Linked DNA regions of Homo sapiens: region 1 is linked to region 2. Evidence: fine-mapped expression QTL. A gene starts in region 2. The other region holds a variant in brackets. All regions are shown on one strand. Distances are between the middles of the regions.

Region 1 (8,348 bases), 130 kb after region 2:
ATTTTGTATATATGTTTTAAAACCTGGTTTGCTGGGGTAAAACAGAAGAAGAGAAAAGCCAGATCACATTCTAAGGTTTTGTGCCTGAGAAGATAAATTCCACTGATAATAAAATAACATTGAGGTACTGTTTAAAGAATGGGGGCTTCTTTTTAGTGTTTGAATTGGGATAGAGCTTAGAATAAAAGGTCAGGTGCTTTCCTATTTCTTTTCAAAAAAGTCAGAAATCTTTAAGTGTTTACTTGAAAGAATCAAAAAGCAATATGATCCAATGGAAAAGAGCATGAGTTTTGCCCTCAGACATACTTGATTTCAAATTCATTTAAATGTATTTATTCAACATATATTTATTGAGTCACTACCATGCTCTAAGTAGTACACTAGGCCCTGGAGATACAATGATAAAAAAAATAGATGCAGTTCCCTGTTTTCATGCAACTTACAGTCTATTGTAGAGATTTAATTTAAAAAGTAATCGCCCACAAACACATAATGACATGTGCTATGAAGGAAAAAAAAGTGCTAGGGGCTTGGAGAGCAAAAATAAGGGGTCCTGAGCCAGCCTGGATGAGAACAGAAAATGAGTTCTTGAAGAGAGTGTTCAGGCCCCTATTTAAGAGATGAGGAAGCATGAACTAGGGGCAGCTGTCCACACTGAGGGCATAATAACATGTACAGAAGCTCTGCGGCAAGGGCAAGGCAACAAACAAGCAAAGAGCAACTTTGAGGTATCCATAGTCACAAAGAAAGTCCATCACTCACTTTCTAAGGAAATCAGTTGCAAGTTACTTGATCCCCTTACATTTCAGGCTCTGACAAAGCAGGATATTATAATAATTAAATGAGTTCAGGTACACAAAAGGGCCTGATATCTAGTAGATGCTGAATAAAACTAAGATCCCCATCCCTGTCACTAGCTGAATTTCTACTAAGCCATCCTCCTTGTTTTTCTGTCGCTGGAAGCACCAGCTTTAGATATAATGGAACTTTTCTTATGATTGACTGTCTGATACTCCATGTGCCAACTCAAAGCAATCTCATGTTTATTTATTTAAGGTATTCTTAGTCTTGTCACTCATTTCTCAGATCAACTAGTTAGTTTTCATTCTTATCGCTTCTCATTATATTGAACACAATGCGTTTTCTTATCAAAGGTCACTATCTTCATGAACCTACTACCCTGGTCTATTAGTCAGGATTCTCCAGGGAAACAGAACCAACAGGATATATGGGTGTGTATATATGTGTGTATATATGCGTGTTTGTGGGTGTGGGTCCGTGTGTGGAGAAAGAGAGAGAGAGACAGAGACAGATTTAAGGAATTGGCTCATGCAATTGTGGGGGCTAGCAAGTCTGAAATCTTCAGGGCAAGCCAAAGGCTGGAGACCCAAGAAAGAGTTGGTATTATATCTTGAGCCTGAAGACAGTCTGGAGGCTGAATTCCCTCTTTCCCAGGAGACCTCAGTCTTTTCTCTTCAGGCCTTCGACTGATTGGAGGAGAACTCCATACTCCCATTATGGAGGGTAATCGGCTTTACTCAAAGTCTACTAACTTAGATGTTAATCACGTTTAAAAAACAGCTTCACAGAAACATCTAGACTGATGTTTAACCAAAAACTAGCTATCATGGCCTAGCCAAGTTGACATAGAAAAGTAACCGTCACACCCGGCCATGCCAATTCTACATGACCTCAGCTTTACTCAAAGACTGATGCCTCCTGAGGGCCTGGGTCTCTGACGTGTCCTGGAGACAGAGTCACTTGACAGAGAGACAGAGACATGAGCACAGTGTATGTGATCCCCAAGCCTGTTTCCAAGGCATATGAATGTGAGGCATCAGGGTAGGCAATGGCAAGGAGCAGCGTTCCTACAAGAGCAGGGACGGAGAACCTCACGAGGATAGTGACAATCAAGAAAGGACAACTGCAAACCCTGGCTGTGAGGAGACCGGGGGAGAAAGGGGTGATCCCTTTCCTCACTCCCCTAAGGGTCACGGCCAACACTCCTATGATAAAGACAGGTTCACGAGAGAAAAGCATAGCAAATTTATTTTATCAAAGTTTTACATGATGCAGGAGCCTTCAGAATGAAGACCCAAGACCCAGGGAAAAGTGTCAATTTTTAATCTTAGATTCCATGAAGAGTGGACAGCCATGTTGAAATGCAATTGGATAAAAAATGAATAACCTAACAGTAACAGACAGAGGGGGAACCCAGCAAGGCCTGTGTGTTCAGATTCTTGGCTCCTTTGTGTAGCGTTCTTTCCTCCTGGGTATCAGGCAGGAGCCCTCTGGAATGAGGTCTTACGACTATTGGACATATTAGGTCAGAAAATCTCTTCTGACCAGATCCTAGACAGAAAGGTGGAGAAGATTCAAGTCATATTTCTACATGTTGTGGTTTGCTTAGAGGAAAGAGGTTCTCCTTTCTATGACTCACCTTAAGGAAGGAGGAATTCTAGTTTCTGTGACTCATTTTAGAAGAGAAAGAGGAGCGGGAGACAGAAAGGCAAGAGAAAGTCAGAGAGAGACTTTGCTTCTGAGGCTGTTTCTGAGGCATTCCAATTTCCATAGTTCAAGGTACTTATCACACCAAAGTGCCATATTTTGGGGGTCTCAATTTCTTGGCCCCCAACAGGACAAAAAGTGAACTGAGTTCCTAGAGATACACTCTTAGCCGAATGATATCCCAGTTCTCAACTAAGTCCTAAATATGCAGCTGTGGTTATGCCTGAAGAATGTGCCAAGACTTCAAGATTTATGACCATAAGGTTCCTGTTTTTTCATATGATTATATGTCCTTATATGAAGTCTCTGAGCCAGATTTTCTGAGTGCAGACCTCGGCTTGCCTCCCTACTAATTTTGGACAATTAATTTGTCAATGTGAGCCCTAGTTTTCATATCTATAAAATGGAAAAAATAGTATTACCTACTTTAAGTTTGTAGTGAAAATCAAGTAAGATAATCAATACATCTAAAGCATTGTGCATGGCCAGTAGAAATTGTTTAATGAATGCTAGCAGTTATCATAAATTCTAGCCATCTCTTCCATAACTTCCATCTGGAAAGTTAACCCCTGGCCACAACAAATGCCTCTTATGTCTGCATATGTACATGATACTTTCCAAAGTTATTTATATGTTAGTATATTTCTATTATATTTCATTTGTATTTGTCCTGTACCTTCCATAGCTCCCATTAAAAGGTAAGAACTGATGGAAAGGGGGAGATATTGGTCAAAGGGTACAAACTTGCAGTTCTAAGATGCATAGGTTCTGGATACCTAATGTACAGCATGGTGACTGTAGTTTAAATAATAATGTATTGTGTGCTTGAAATTTGCTAAGAGAATAAACCTCTAGTGTCTCACCATACACACATAAAGGTAACTATGTGAAGTGATGGATTTGTTCATTAGCTTGATTGTGGTAATCATTTCATAATGTGTACATACATCAAAACATTATATTGTATACTTTAAATATATATTATTATGTGCCGATTATACCTCAATAAAGCTGGTAGAAAATTAAAAACATTTAAAAACCCATCTTCAAAAAAGTAAAAATAAGCAAGTAAATAAATGATAAGAAATTATAATGTCTTTCACACTCCCCATAATGTCTCACAATTCCTAGTGACTATTCAGGTTAACAAGCATTTATTGAGAATGTATCAGGTTTAGGGTCCCATACCAGGTGCCACTCACTACAGTGGACTAATGTGTGTATCAATAAGGGATATTTTCCTAAAGTAATTATGCCAAATCTCAGCACCAAAGTGACGGTGCAATAATATAAATCTGGAGGTCATACAACAGGCTGATTATTTGGGGAGGGATATAGACTGCAAAGGCAAGTTCAATATTCAGCAAACAACACTCATTTTTCAACATTTATGAAATGCCTGCTCTAGGCATGCAGGATACTCTGCTAGGTCCAGACTCCTTAGCTGCAAAGGTGTCATTAGACTTGCTATAAAGATGTATTCTCTGTTTATTCATTTTTGTTTGGGGAGGTGATCTCATGATTATAAATTTTTATTAGTTACTAATAGCATTCTTGACACTAAACAAACACAGTGAGTTGCTAATCACAGAAAGGGTCATTTATTTTCTATTTTGGGTCACTTATTTTCTCTGTTGAGGGAAAGGAACATGACAGCTCTCTGTTAATAATGCCAAATTCAAAAATCCTTTTTCTTCTTAAAATCTGAGTATTACGTCCCTTCTGACCACATCTCCCCTTTTAAAGTTATATTGACATCTCACCTCATATTTTGCAACACCTTGCTTAGCAACCAAAACATGCCACTTGCAGAAATGAAA[C/T]CAAAAAGCTAAAGGAAAACTGAACAACCACAACCAGCTTCTATGGGCAGAGGGGTAGATTCTGCTTGCAGAGTTGCAACATGCATTCTCCCTGGGCCCTCCTTCCCTACAGAACCTAGAAGCAGAACAATATATCTTTCCATGAATATATTATCAGGACTCACTTGACGATCTTGCTGTTGACAATATTGGTTGTACTTCACTTCACTCTCCTCCTGTGGTCCAAAACCAGATTCAATACCCCTGGGCCCCTACCGAGGCTGTACAGCAGCTGAAGGGCCAACTGCCAATGGGTCTGGCACAGAGTCTTTCCAGCCTCGGCACCTGACTTACCGGCTGCCTCCCTTTCAGTCTCATTGGTTGATGAGGCAGCTGTGATTCTGACAATGAGCTTGGTGTTGGGTCAAGTTTTCTGTTTGGCTGACATACTCCCTTAGATGCCATTTTCCTTGACTCACCCTTGATTACAGGGAATGTTCTCTATTACCTTTTAAAATAATATGATATCCATAAGCAAAGCTTTGGATTAGCATTTTTGATAGCATTACCCATCACTGATTTTTTTTTCAATGCTGAAATGCATAAAGTAGGGCTAGAGCCAGCCTAAACCTAGTGCTTAGCCCAGTAGTGTATTAATTATCTTTTGTAACTTCAGAATAAAATGCAGAATTTCCCTCCCTAGGAACCTGGAATGCAATGTTTGCCCATGTAAGCAGTTTATAAGTGCAAATGTGAGTAAGTGTTTTTATATATTAGAAAGGTTGAGAGAATCCTCTTTCCACAAAAAATAAAAAGCTTTAAAAGAATAAATATTCATGTTCTAATACAGGGAATGTGAAATAAAAATAAGTTTAACTCTATTGATAAAAAGTACTTTTATTCAATAGTTAAAAGACAAATCACTTGCAAAATTTGCTTATATAGGAAAAAACTCTCAGTGTTGTAGCTTTCTTTATCATAGAACACCAGCCTCCCTCAAACACCAACTGTGATAATTAATGTCCATATTATGAACATTCTATGTGATACAATTTGTTTCTGCTTTGTTAAAAAAAAAAAAGGCCAAACTGACTGCCAGCACTTGAGATTCTGAAAATAATACTACATATGTTGATAAAATAATTCACTGCTGTTATTAATTTTCCAATTATATTTTGATATTTTAAAAAACTATTGTTATCATATACTTTTATAACATATCTAAATATTACAGATACATAAAACAGAATTGGAGACTCCCACCCACAGAAACTCTCATATAAACAACCTGGTGAATAATTCTTCAGATTTCCTCTCCAAGTGTTCTAATATGTATATAACTTTTACCAAAATGACACCATACTATACCTTCTGTTTGTGACTTCATTTTTTTTATGTCTAATAATTCTTGGACATCTTTTCCATTTGAAGCCGTCAAAACTGCCTCATTCTTGGAATCTCTATGGGCATCATAGTAGAAGGGATAAGATCGTGGGCTTTGGGACCAAATGGCTTAGCTGCATTTGAATCCTAGCCCCAGCATTAGTAATTCTGTGACTTTGACAAGTTACTTAATTTATCTGTGCTTTGCTTTCTAAACCCATAAATGTCAAATTAATAACATCTACTCAAAGTGGTTGCCGTGTCCATTAACTAGTTGCTTCTTGACATTTCGTAGGCATGAGACCACAATAGTACTGTTACCAAGGATATCTGATATCTTATTAACAATCTCACATTGATGGACATTTAGATTGACCATGATTTTTTATTCTCACACATAATGCTCTAATGAACATTCTTCTAAGTACAGCTATACCAATTTTGTGAGTATCCCTAGAGGCTAAATTTTTGAAAGTGTCATGTTTTTAATCAAAGGTGATCTATATTTTTAAAATGATAAATATTGCAAGACTATCTCCAAAATTGTAACTATTTATACTATGAATAAGAGTGATGAGGGTAAATTTTGGATTATGAGAAATACTTTGTTAAACCTTTTGCCCACACATTAAAAATGCATAGTTTTTGTTTGTTTCTTTGTTTGTTTTTACAAAGGAGCAGAGTATTACTGGAACACAACATATCTTAAGTAACATTTGTATTATGTTATCCATAAAAATCCAAATTTTTTTCATAATTTCCCCCATTCTCACAGTTCTGCAAGTCTTTGAGCCCTATTTCTCCAGAGAAAGAATTCATATCACCTTATCTTCATATAATCAGTTATTATTAAATGCAGAAAATAACATTCCACTAGGCAGCTACTCATAAAGATCTACAAATGAGATGTGTAACAAATGTTTATGGAAATTAGTAAATCAAGATATGAAACAATTATGTCATGTTCTACAGGTATGGTAACGTTAGTCCTCAAACCCAGACTGAAAACATTCTCTGACAACTCTACCACATGTTCAGAATTGAGATTGTTCAAGACTGGTTTTCTGTAGTTACACGAGAGCCCAAAGGGGTGAAACCACCCTGAGATGGATGAACCTCTGAGGTCTAGTAATATGTGGCGCATGTACAGTGTGAGAGAATATGTCCTCGAATCACAGTGGAACTAAATGGCAAACATTTTACAACTTCTGGAAACACATTTCTTTCTGGTTCTTTGATGTAAAGCTAACTTGAGGCTTTGTCCCAGATAGTAACATCCGATACAAAGAAGTAACATAGGAATAAGTTGATTTCTATTTATCAACATAGAATTTAAATAATTTTTTAATAATGAAGAGGCTTTACATCAGGTTAATAGAAAGGCAAAGATAAATGTTTACACAGGAGAAGTGGTGCATAGCTACATCTGTTCTCCCCACACACAGCAGCAAATATTGTGTTCTTTATGAAGTTTTATTTGCTTTTCATGCTTACTGTTGTTTACATGTTCTAAAATCTCTGCACGATGGAGTTTTCAAATGAAATAAAGATATCTAAATACTATAATTGGGAATTTTCTTAGAATTATTTTACCCTTTCTAAAAATAGGTTAATATTTGGCATTAACGTTTTTCAACTTAAAATACAAAATTGTTCTAAAACTGGGAGTTGAGGGTTAAATAGAAAATTAATGCGTATTTGCATTTTTAAAAAGATTTCCAGAAACAGTATTTGTTTTATCTAGTTTTATATTTAACACCTTTTGAGCATGAATCAATTCTCTACTTCTCTCTTTACTTGATCTTTTAAACTAAGATTTTTCTGTAATAACATAAGCCTAATTCTTTGGAAATAATATTCAGTTAGCATAATTGACATTATAGAGTTTTAAAGTACATTATAGAATATTCTGTCACTAGACACTAAATTGAAATTTTAAAGAAAATGATGGAAATTGCTGTAAGGGAAAAAAAGTAGCCTTTTAAATCTAATTTGTTATGCACTGCAGTAGGGTAATGGATGCAATGAAAGTTCTTTTATAGAGTTCCCATGTCCAAAAGGTATTTAGGTAGCAAAGGATGTTAAGCAGACCCCTGCTATCCCCCTTTAACTGAAGATAGCAGGAAACAAGGTATATAGGTCTGTGTCCTCCTGATTTTTATTTCCTCAGGAGTACAACTTCTGCAAAGGACACCTTAGGCTGCTTAGCGATCACAAAGGGTACACTAGAACCCCTCGCTGTCTGCTTGAATAGCACGATCTGAAGGGTGGCTGAAGCCATACAGGGAGTTAAATCCTTCAGGTGGGTCTTTTCAAATTCCAATAGTGAGGAGTTACTGGAGAATTGGTAAGGATTTCACTAGGCCCCAGCAGGTTTGAGATCAAAAGCTTCAGTTAAATAAAAGCCTATTGGGAAATCTTAAAACCTCTTTGTAATGTAACTTTAAAAAGTTAATACAAAGAAACCTTAGACTGAAGCCAGTAACAGCATGAACAAAGAGTATATCAAAACTGATTCCATTAAGAGAAAGCGGACATACAAATTCACTTACTTTAAAGAGCAATCCAGTTATATTACTGTGCGAGAGAATAGAACTTACACCATACCATCCAGCCCATTTAGATGTGCTCATTTCTTGCTACATATGCCAGACTGTA
Region 2 (8,348 bases):
CCTCTGACTCTGTTACAGAGTTAGATGTGGCTTCATTGGGAAGGTAACCTTTTCTATCTAATCTTGACCAATGAACAAGATTTACCAAAGAAAAATGCAGAAAACACACCAGGAAACAGGAATGGCACGAACAGAGTCATGAAAGACCTGACATTCTCCAAAGAAAAGTGAGAAGTTCAGTGAATAAAGGGTGAAGTGCATGCCTAGCAATTTTGGAATATAAAGCTAGAGAAAGATGTTGGGATCAGATATCAGCCATGATAACATATTCAGATTTTATCCTGTAGGCAAAAGGGATCCCATAGAGGCTGTAAAGCCAGAAAGCTATAGAGAAACTTTGTTTCTTAGAGAATCTCTAAATTCACCAATGGGCAGGAAAAAAATTAATTTGAGGAGACCAGCATTTTCTCATGTATGTGTTTGTGTGTGAAATAAAATTATAATCTTATATTCTTAGGGTCAGTTCTAGTTATGATGATGAAACATTTTAAGAAATTGTAACTTAGTCTGTAGAATGGAAACACAAGTCCCTAGAAAATCAAGCTAGTTATTATGTCCCATTTCAGCACGCCTTTACCTACCCAGGATATCAGAGGTTTCCCCTCTTTCTTATTGACACAGAAAGCTGCTTGGAGATGGTATATATTTCATCTTATATGTTGACAGTCTGACTTTCTTAGCATGTGCCATATGACAGGATCACCATGCCACAACTAGTAATTGAAAGCCATATGATGGTTCTCCCTATCCAATTAGAAAACAAACGATCCAATTAAGAAAAATTTTAAAAGCTGTTAAAAGGAAGCAATCACTTGCCAATAGTGCTGTCCTTACAGTTTAACACAGCTAGAAATTGACCTGTACTTCTCTTTTCCACATTTATTTTTGTGAATTATAAGTTAATCACCCTGTCAATTCCTAATTAAAAGGCCCTGCAAAGATTTTCATCCAAAAAGGACTGTTGCTAAGGGTTCTGGGTCAAATTGCTCTGTTGTCAAAAATGAGGAATAAAACCAAAACAACATCAACTCTCTCCCAGGAAACTTACATCTTAATACCAAAAAATGAGGACTTTCTGGAAATATAATAATCACATTTTATATTTTCAACCCTGTTTGATCTTATCTTTAGAACACAGATGTCTCCTTTTTTCTCTTTCTTTAAAACAAGGGTTGCAAATTCAGATGCCTAGTGGGGCCGGGCAGTGATAGAAACGAGTCAAGAGGAGCAGGCAGCAGGCGTATGAAGCAGCAGCTGTGGAAAAGTCAAGCTTAACGCCTGGCCAAAAGGGTCGGCTTCTACTCAGCTGGAGCCGATGTTGCTTATGTGGGAATGTGGGCACAATGTTGCCAGACCTTCAGCTCTTTCATGAAAAGCCAGAAATTCAGGATCTTGTGTGAAATCTGTTTTTTAAGGGCACCAAATAAAACACAGCTCTGTGGACTCAGCCCAAGGACCTCAGTGTCACAAAGTTTGCTCCCCAGAAAGTGGCCGCACACGGAGCAGATTGTGGGGATGAGGAGCCCGAGCAATGGGAAAGAGCAGAAAACGTGTACACTTTGCACTTAGGAGAACTTGCTGTGTCGACCCTGAGCAAATTACTCACTCAAGCTGGGTATCTGTTTTCTACTTGTCTTATTTTGCCTTTCAGGGCTATGTAATGGAATCATATGAAGGAAATTAAAACAGGTAATACACCATGAAATTCCAAGTTATTCCTAAAAGATGTGGATGATGGATTTCCAGTTTATTAACTAATAATAACTTTATGTTCTGAAAACAATGAGAAGGAAGGTTGGGACCAGACTCAAAAAAAAATCCTGAATGCCGTACTAAGATGTGTTATCCTAAGTTTCTAGTCAATTTTGAGACCCTGAAGGTCTTTTTTTAGCGGGGAAGTAACTTTATCAAAGCTGTAAAGATTCTCATGGCAACATTATGGAGTGGAATTTGAAGCAGGAAGAAATCATAGGCACCATTGCCAGACAGAAGATTATTGCTATAAGACTGTTAATGCAAGTCTAAATTCAGAGAGCAGCAGCAGATAGAGAAATTGATATTATGGTGCATCATACTATTAAACTTCTTCAGGGCCTTACCTGCCATCTCTTCATTATGACTGCTAAGTGCAAAGACCATCTCTTGTTATGCAGAACTCCCATACCAGGCCCGTTTCTGACTTACTCACTGGGTTGCGATGGAGGTTAATTCTAGATTCTGAAAGTGATTTGGCATTTGACAGTAACCATTTTGGCCAAGTCATGCCCAAGTCAATGAGTGTGCATGCTACCAGCATCATCCCCAGATGATCGTAGGGTCACTTCTATCATACCTGGCTCTGACCTCTCCCTCCTTTTTCTTGAGCCAATATTGCTCCTCTGGCCACCCAGAGGATCATCAAGAAATTAGTCCTGGGAAGATTAATTTTGATTAGCTAACATTTATAGAGCACTTGTTATATGCCATGAACTGCAATTGATATATATTGTTTTATTTAATCTTGATAACTCTACGAAGGAAGACACTATTATCCCTGATTTATACTTGAGGAAATTGAGAGCAAAAAAATACTGAAATTACCAAGTTCATGTAAGTAGTATATGCCAGATCAATATTTGAATCTAAGTAATATGGCGCAGAGGCACCTGCCTTAACCACTGTACCATATGATCACTTAATTAGGAAAAGATGCTGAAAAAAATGTAAGTGCATAAACATCCCCAGGTATTTCTACTTGTGTGGGTGCCTGGTCATTCTGTTAAAACACCTGATGAAAGTTTTACTTTCATATGAATTTTCATAAAAGAATAAGGGGGATATTACACAATTTTTTCAAAGAAATACAGAGTACCTCTGTTCTTATGAGTAGATGGTTAATCTCATGCATGTTATTTCTATAATTTTAATATTTGTGTAGCATTTTGTTTGCCTACATGTTTTGCAGACATTGTACTAATTTTTTACTGCATTATGGAAAGGACAGAACAGAAGCCTCTTTACCCATCTTTACAGGTACCTGTTGGGGTAGCTTCAACCCCATGTTATGTTGTATTATGCTGTGTTGGATCATATTTGTCAGTGTCCTGTTATCATCTATCATACCTTACTATCTAATATTGTATTGAACTTAAATCTGGCCCTTTAGGGGTCCTGTGAAAGATGAAAAATGTGGGTCCCAGCAGCCTTCCTCTTAAATATAATTGAAAAAGAGGCAGGCATCAAGACATGTCATGTCTCATGCTGCCAGAAAGTGATCTTGAATCATTTAAATGATGAGAATACAGTGAACATTTTGTACAAAAAGATGACAATTTTCTGTAGTAGTGTTGTCCAGATGAAAATGCCTAGCTGTCTTGGTAAGAGACCTGAAGAAGGATATACACACACACACACTCCTTATAGACTTATACAACTGATTTTTGCTATTTTATGCTTGAAGCAAAGTATGCAGGGTCCACAAAACTCTTAAGCCATCAGTAGGATTCTATACAACACTCCCCATTCAATAAGGAGAGCGCTAAGAAAGCAGTAAGTGAGAGTGGCAACACCATGCCCGTGCTTGGGGCTCTGTGCACACTTGATGGATCAGTGAACCAAGACAAAAACCCAGAACACTAGCAACATTAAATACAAATATGATCCACCGTCAGGTTTCCTATCAAGTTAAATGTAGCGTCTTATGTGCAGCCAAATCAGTGGTATTTGTGTTGACTCTTAGTCCCACCTAAACAAGGGCCATCAAACAGACATTCCTTCAGCTACCTCTCTTGAAGTGCAAGTCCCTAAGAAATGCTTACTAAATCACAGAAGCAGTGGAGAGATGGTAAGATTCACCAATCTAACCCATGCAAGTCTGACAGCAAATTTTGATGTCCCGGTTCAAGTCAGCTGGGAGGAGGAGGGGGTCTTAGGCATCTGTGACACCCAGCAGCATCTTCCACTAACCTTCTCTCCACTTATCAATGTGTGGTTTACATGTCAGACAAATGTTATAAGGCATAGGCATTCTGACCAACATATGAAAATCTCAAAAGCCAAGGAATCTGGAAAATACAAGGCAGTGGCCTGAAAATCCTCACTTTCCTCTGGCACTATTTTCGCTAACAAGTTTACTTGACACACATGCACACACACACACACATGCACACACACACTGGAATTTTAAGAGCAGGAATGTAACCATTGTGCTAACCATTCTCACATCACTCGCAAAATGTGTTCTAAGTCCATATTGTGCAGCATACTTGAAGACATGTGGATTTTTCCACATCATTTGGTGACATTTTACACAGTTTAATTTCTGCTCTTTCTTGCTAGACCCTACCTTTTTTTTCTCTCACAAACATTCCACCAATGGGATTTTCTTGAGCATTTTATCCTGCGCTCAGATTCCTCCCTTTTCTTCAGCATCTACTTGTATCGCTGCTGCACAACTTTGCCATGATGTGTCTGTCAAATTTCAGCCTCCCAGATTGAAAAGAAGGGGACACAGGTGTTCAACTGCCAAGGAGAGAAACCAGGTTAATGGAGTAGGGGCCGGCCTATGGGGCCGGCCTAAAGGGAAACCTCACAACCACAGGCAGAGGCCAACATGGAAGACTCCAGAGAAACGTGGTCCAGCTCGGGATGTTCCATTCCTCCATTCTCCTCACCAGACCAGGTGAAAGGCAGCTTTTAAAGTTGGAAGGAGTGAGGAATACAATTGAAACCAAAATTGGTTTGAGCTCACTATTTTTCTAGCTATCAGTTCTGAGGTCACAGTCACTAAAACTGGAAACTTAAAAATGACTTCAAAAAGGCAAACGCTAACTAGATTTCACACTGGATTTCATTTTACTTGGCATTACAGAAAGAATGCAGGTATTAAATACACTGTTTCCTGTATACAATAAGGTTAATTAGTAGTGAGGGATGGAAAATCAGTGTAGACATAACTCTTTTCGACAGGTATCAAAAATAATCCCCTGATCCCTACAGACCCCAGCTGCATTGAAAGAGGAGTAATATAAAAGATTCTTTAAGCACAAAATTTTCAAACATTCTCCAGGTGTCCCCAGCACCAGTTAAATAGGCCCTGAACCCCCTGTGCATGGGCTGGCTCCCGCTCCATTCCCTGGCTCTAACTTAAAGGCGCAGCTACTCACATTGAATTTTCAGGTGCTGCGTAAAAGCTCTCCATACAAAGCGGCTGGGATTGCAAACGGAGACAGACAGGAGAACAAAAAGAAGAATATATTGCGCCCTGCCTGGGTCTTCCCTAAGCTCCTTATCAATAAGGTTAATAAGGGTCTATGCAATTTACTGATCACTATGATGCAACAACCCTCCTTGTGCTCCAAATCTCCACGTAGGCGCTGGCTTTTAATGCTTTTCTCAGCCAATCACATAAAAGCGCTTTTGCCCGCACCCCAGAGAATAAACTCCGGTTCACGATCCTGGCCTCTGTAAAATCTCTGGTCCGTTATTACACTTCTACCTGCCCTAGTTAAGCAGATTAACAGTTATTTCCTAGAATTTGATCTATGAGGTTCTTTGTAATTGAAGCTGGAGTACTCAGATATTACTAAAAAATGTATTTCTGAAAAACGCATTCCTTTTTTCTCTGGTTTAATTTTGTTATCCTCAATCATATGCATGATATTAAAAAAATCCAAATTTCTATCTCCTCTATAAAATACATGTCATATCAAAAAGGTGACAAGAGGGGGGAAAAGTAATTAGTGAGTTCACGGAGTTCAGTAGAAAAGTTAAAATGGAGTAACACATTACTTTTTATGTTAAGATTTCACAAGACAAGTCTTGCCTGTGTTTTAATTGCATGTGACCCTGGCAGTCCTACTCTGAAATGAAGTGCCGTAAAATTAAAGATGACAGACGCTCAAAACAAGTCTTGTGATCTTGATTAAACTACAAAGACCACACTCTCTCTCTGCTGCAACTCAGATATCATGGGCTGTTTTATTTGGGGAATTGCTTCATTAATGCCTTCTTTGACTAGACATGTTTATTATATTAAAAAAACTGAATATGGTGATATCTCGCATAGCTAAATAATTCCCCCTAAAATGCAAGTTACAAATGAAGAGTGTTTAAATATCCTGCAGACCTAATGCTTTTATAAATGCTCACAATTATATATCTATATATCATATGTATGTGTGTGTATGCATGTGTGTGTGTGTATATATATATATACCACAATCATGAATAATTGAATATGGGCATGTATGGATATATATGACCATATTCATCCTTGAAACATGAATTACCTATGCTAACCTAGGAATCTCTACTATAGTCTGAGAAGCAGAGCAATTATTCTACTATATTTTCTTAGCCATGTAAAATTTCCCAGGCCAACAGAATGTAAAGAATTTTACATTATCCTATACAGACAACTTCTGAGAAAACACTGGAATTTTAAAGTTCCCAGGTATAGTCTGAGAAGAGAACTGGATTTGATTCACACCTGATTTTTCAAAATTATTATCAAGACATTCCATCTAAGTTATATAAAACATAGAATAGATGCTTTTAAATCCTGCTTCTTCCCCTGGGTGGGAGTGGGAAAAAAAGCAGAGTTGAGAGCAAGTCCTTATTTCATTCTGCTGTTAGTGTCTCTCCCATATGTCTCCACTCACCAGGTCTTGTTCAAATCTCAAGCCCTCTGGGACAAGTCCTTGTCCTCAACAAGGACCTTAACAAGTAGGTGAGATTATTCATGTCTAGGGTCTCCTACATTCTAAAGTTCTACGATCCTGTTATTTTGTCCCATTTCAAGAACACTATTTTTAATTCATGTTCCAATTCGTCAATTTTATTTCATTTTAAGAAACAAGAAGACACTATATTTGTAATATACACTGGCTATGTGGGTGTTAATATCTAACAGGGATATATGGATTCACCTGAGAATCAGAGCTGGGAAATCTGGTTTCCAGAATTCACTTTTTCCTGGAGTATTCATCATTCCAGATAAGTCTCCATACACATGTCTCAATTTCTTCATGTTCAAAACACATATGGCAGTTTTTGCCCTACCTAACAAAAAGGGTTGTTGTGAAAATAAAATACAATACTATATATTAAAAACTCTTTGAAAAAAAGTATGACTGATGCTTCCCAATCAGTATTATTTTTACAATTTTTCTACCAATGGCCTTCAGTAAACACAAAAGCTTTTGCATTTACAAGCCAACTGACCCTTTAACTTACACTGTTCTTTTAAAAATCTTCATGCTTGCCTTTAAAATGAAATGCTTGTTCCTGTATGTTTTTTCAACACTGTCAAAAATCCTCAGGTGAAAGATATATCATGTCTTTCATATGGGAGATTTTTATTTGACAGAATAACTCAAGATTCTGGACATAAGAAAGTGTTTATTAGAACCTAATTATGTATAGCATTGCGAGATTATGTTCGGCTAAGAGAACTGCAGTTACATCTACTTTCAGCCTCTCAGTCTCTCTCTACTTCCGAGTCTACTCTCTTCCGTGGCTCTTTTATCTTTTTCTATCTTGGTGCCTCCTTCTCTGTTTCTCTGTGTCTCTTTATTCCCACTCCATACCCTGACATTCAGTACAGGAATTTTAACATAGGTTTCGTGGGTCCCTGGACCCCTGGACTTCAACAGATGCAGGAAATCTCAAAACCTTCATGCTAGATTTTTGGCACATTTTTCTGGAGTCCAAGTCTGGAGTTTTCATCATATTCTCAAAGAGGTCTGTAACTAGGAATTACTGTTCTAGATCCATTTCCCAGCCTATCAATACTGCTATCTTTTGTCTAAATTGAACTGTAGATGGGTCACTGTCAATCAAATCCCAAGTTCTAACAGGCCATGAGGAGTCTCCACGGCTTTCTGTCCAACTGCCTGACAGTACAACCAAGTCCAAGGAGCTAACTATAGATCCAACAAAATCAATTAGTACATATCAAAAAAAAAATATTCAATCCTTAGAGCAATTCCCATTTATAATTGATAAAAATAATAAATAGGGTGCACCCATGAAATTAAGATACTTTGCCTGTTATTCAACAGAGGATATTTAGAGTTTTAAGAATAAATCCAACAGTAACACAAGTGGTCCATTTTCACAATGCCCAAGTGAAAACTGTGCCAGACACATGTCCTGTGCCTGCGTGGTACTTCTACACCATTAGCTGCCACAAATCAAAGAGAATGTCATTGCTTTTAATAGGATTACATAGAACCCAGTAACAAGCAGGAAGACTAGCATTAGACTGAGTAACTGGCCAGTAATTTGGATGTTTAACCAACTGATTGGCTGCCAAATTGACAGGTCATCCACACTGAACTAGCCACTATTCCATGAATTTTCATGAC

Direction of the effects. Positions count from the first base shown, and alleles are read on the strand shown. Sizes are in standard deviations (SD) of each study's normalised expression.
As copies of T replace C in region 1, the expression in spinal cord of the gene that starts at base 5,240 in region 2 goes down (large effect, 0.77 SD a copy in GTEx).

What was found.
Region 1: its variant is fine-mapped to the expression of ARHGAP15-AS1 in spinal cord (GTEx, PIP 0.91).

What each region holds. Positions count from the first base shown.
Region 1 is chr2:143,899,026-143,907,373 of GRCh38, forward strand. No RefSeq gene overlaps it. Among named protein-coding and RNA genes, the nearest start is that of QTMAN-AS1, 34 kb to the right of the region's middle. RefSeq lists an enhancer at 7,633-8,191. The variant C/T (reference allele first, on the strand shown) is at 4,329.
Region 2 is chr2:143,770,859-143,779,206 of GRCh38, forward strand. ARHGAP15-AS1 (ARHGAP15 antisense RNA 1) reads right to left here and starts at 5,240. Exons shown (of 8, transcript XR_007087251.1): 1 at 5,145-5,240; 2 at 4,325-4,500.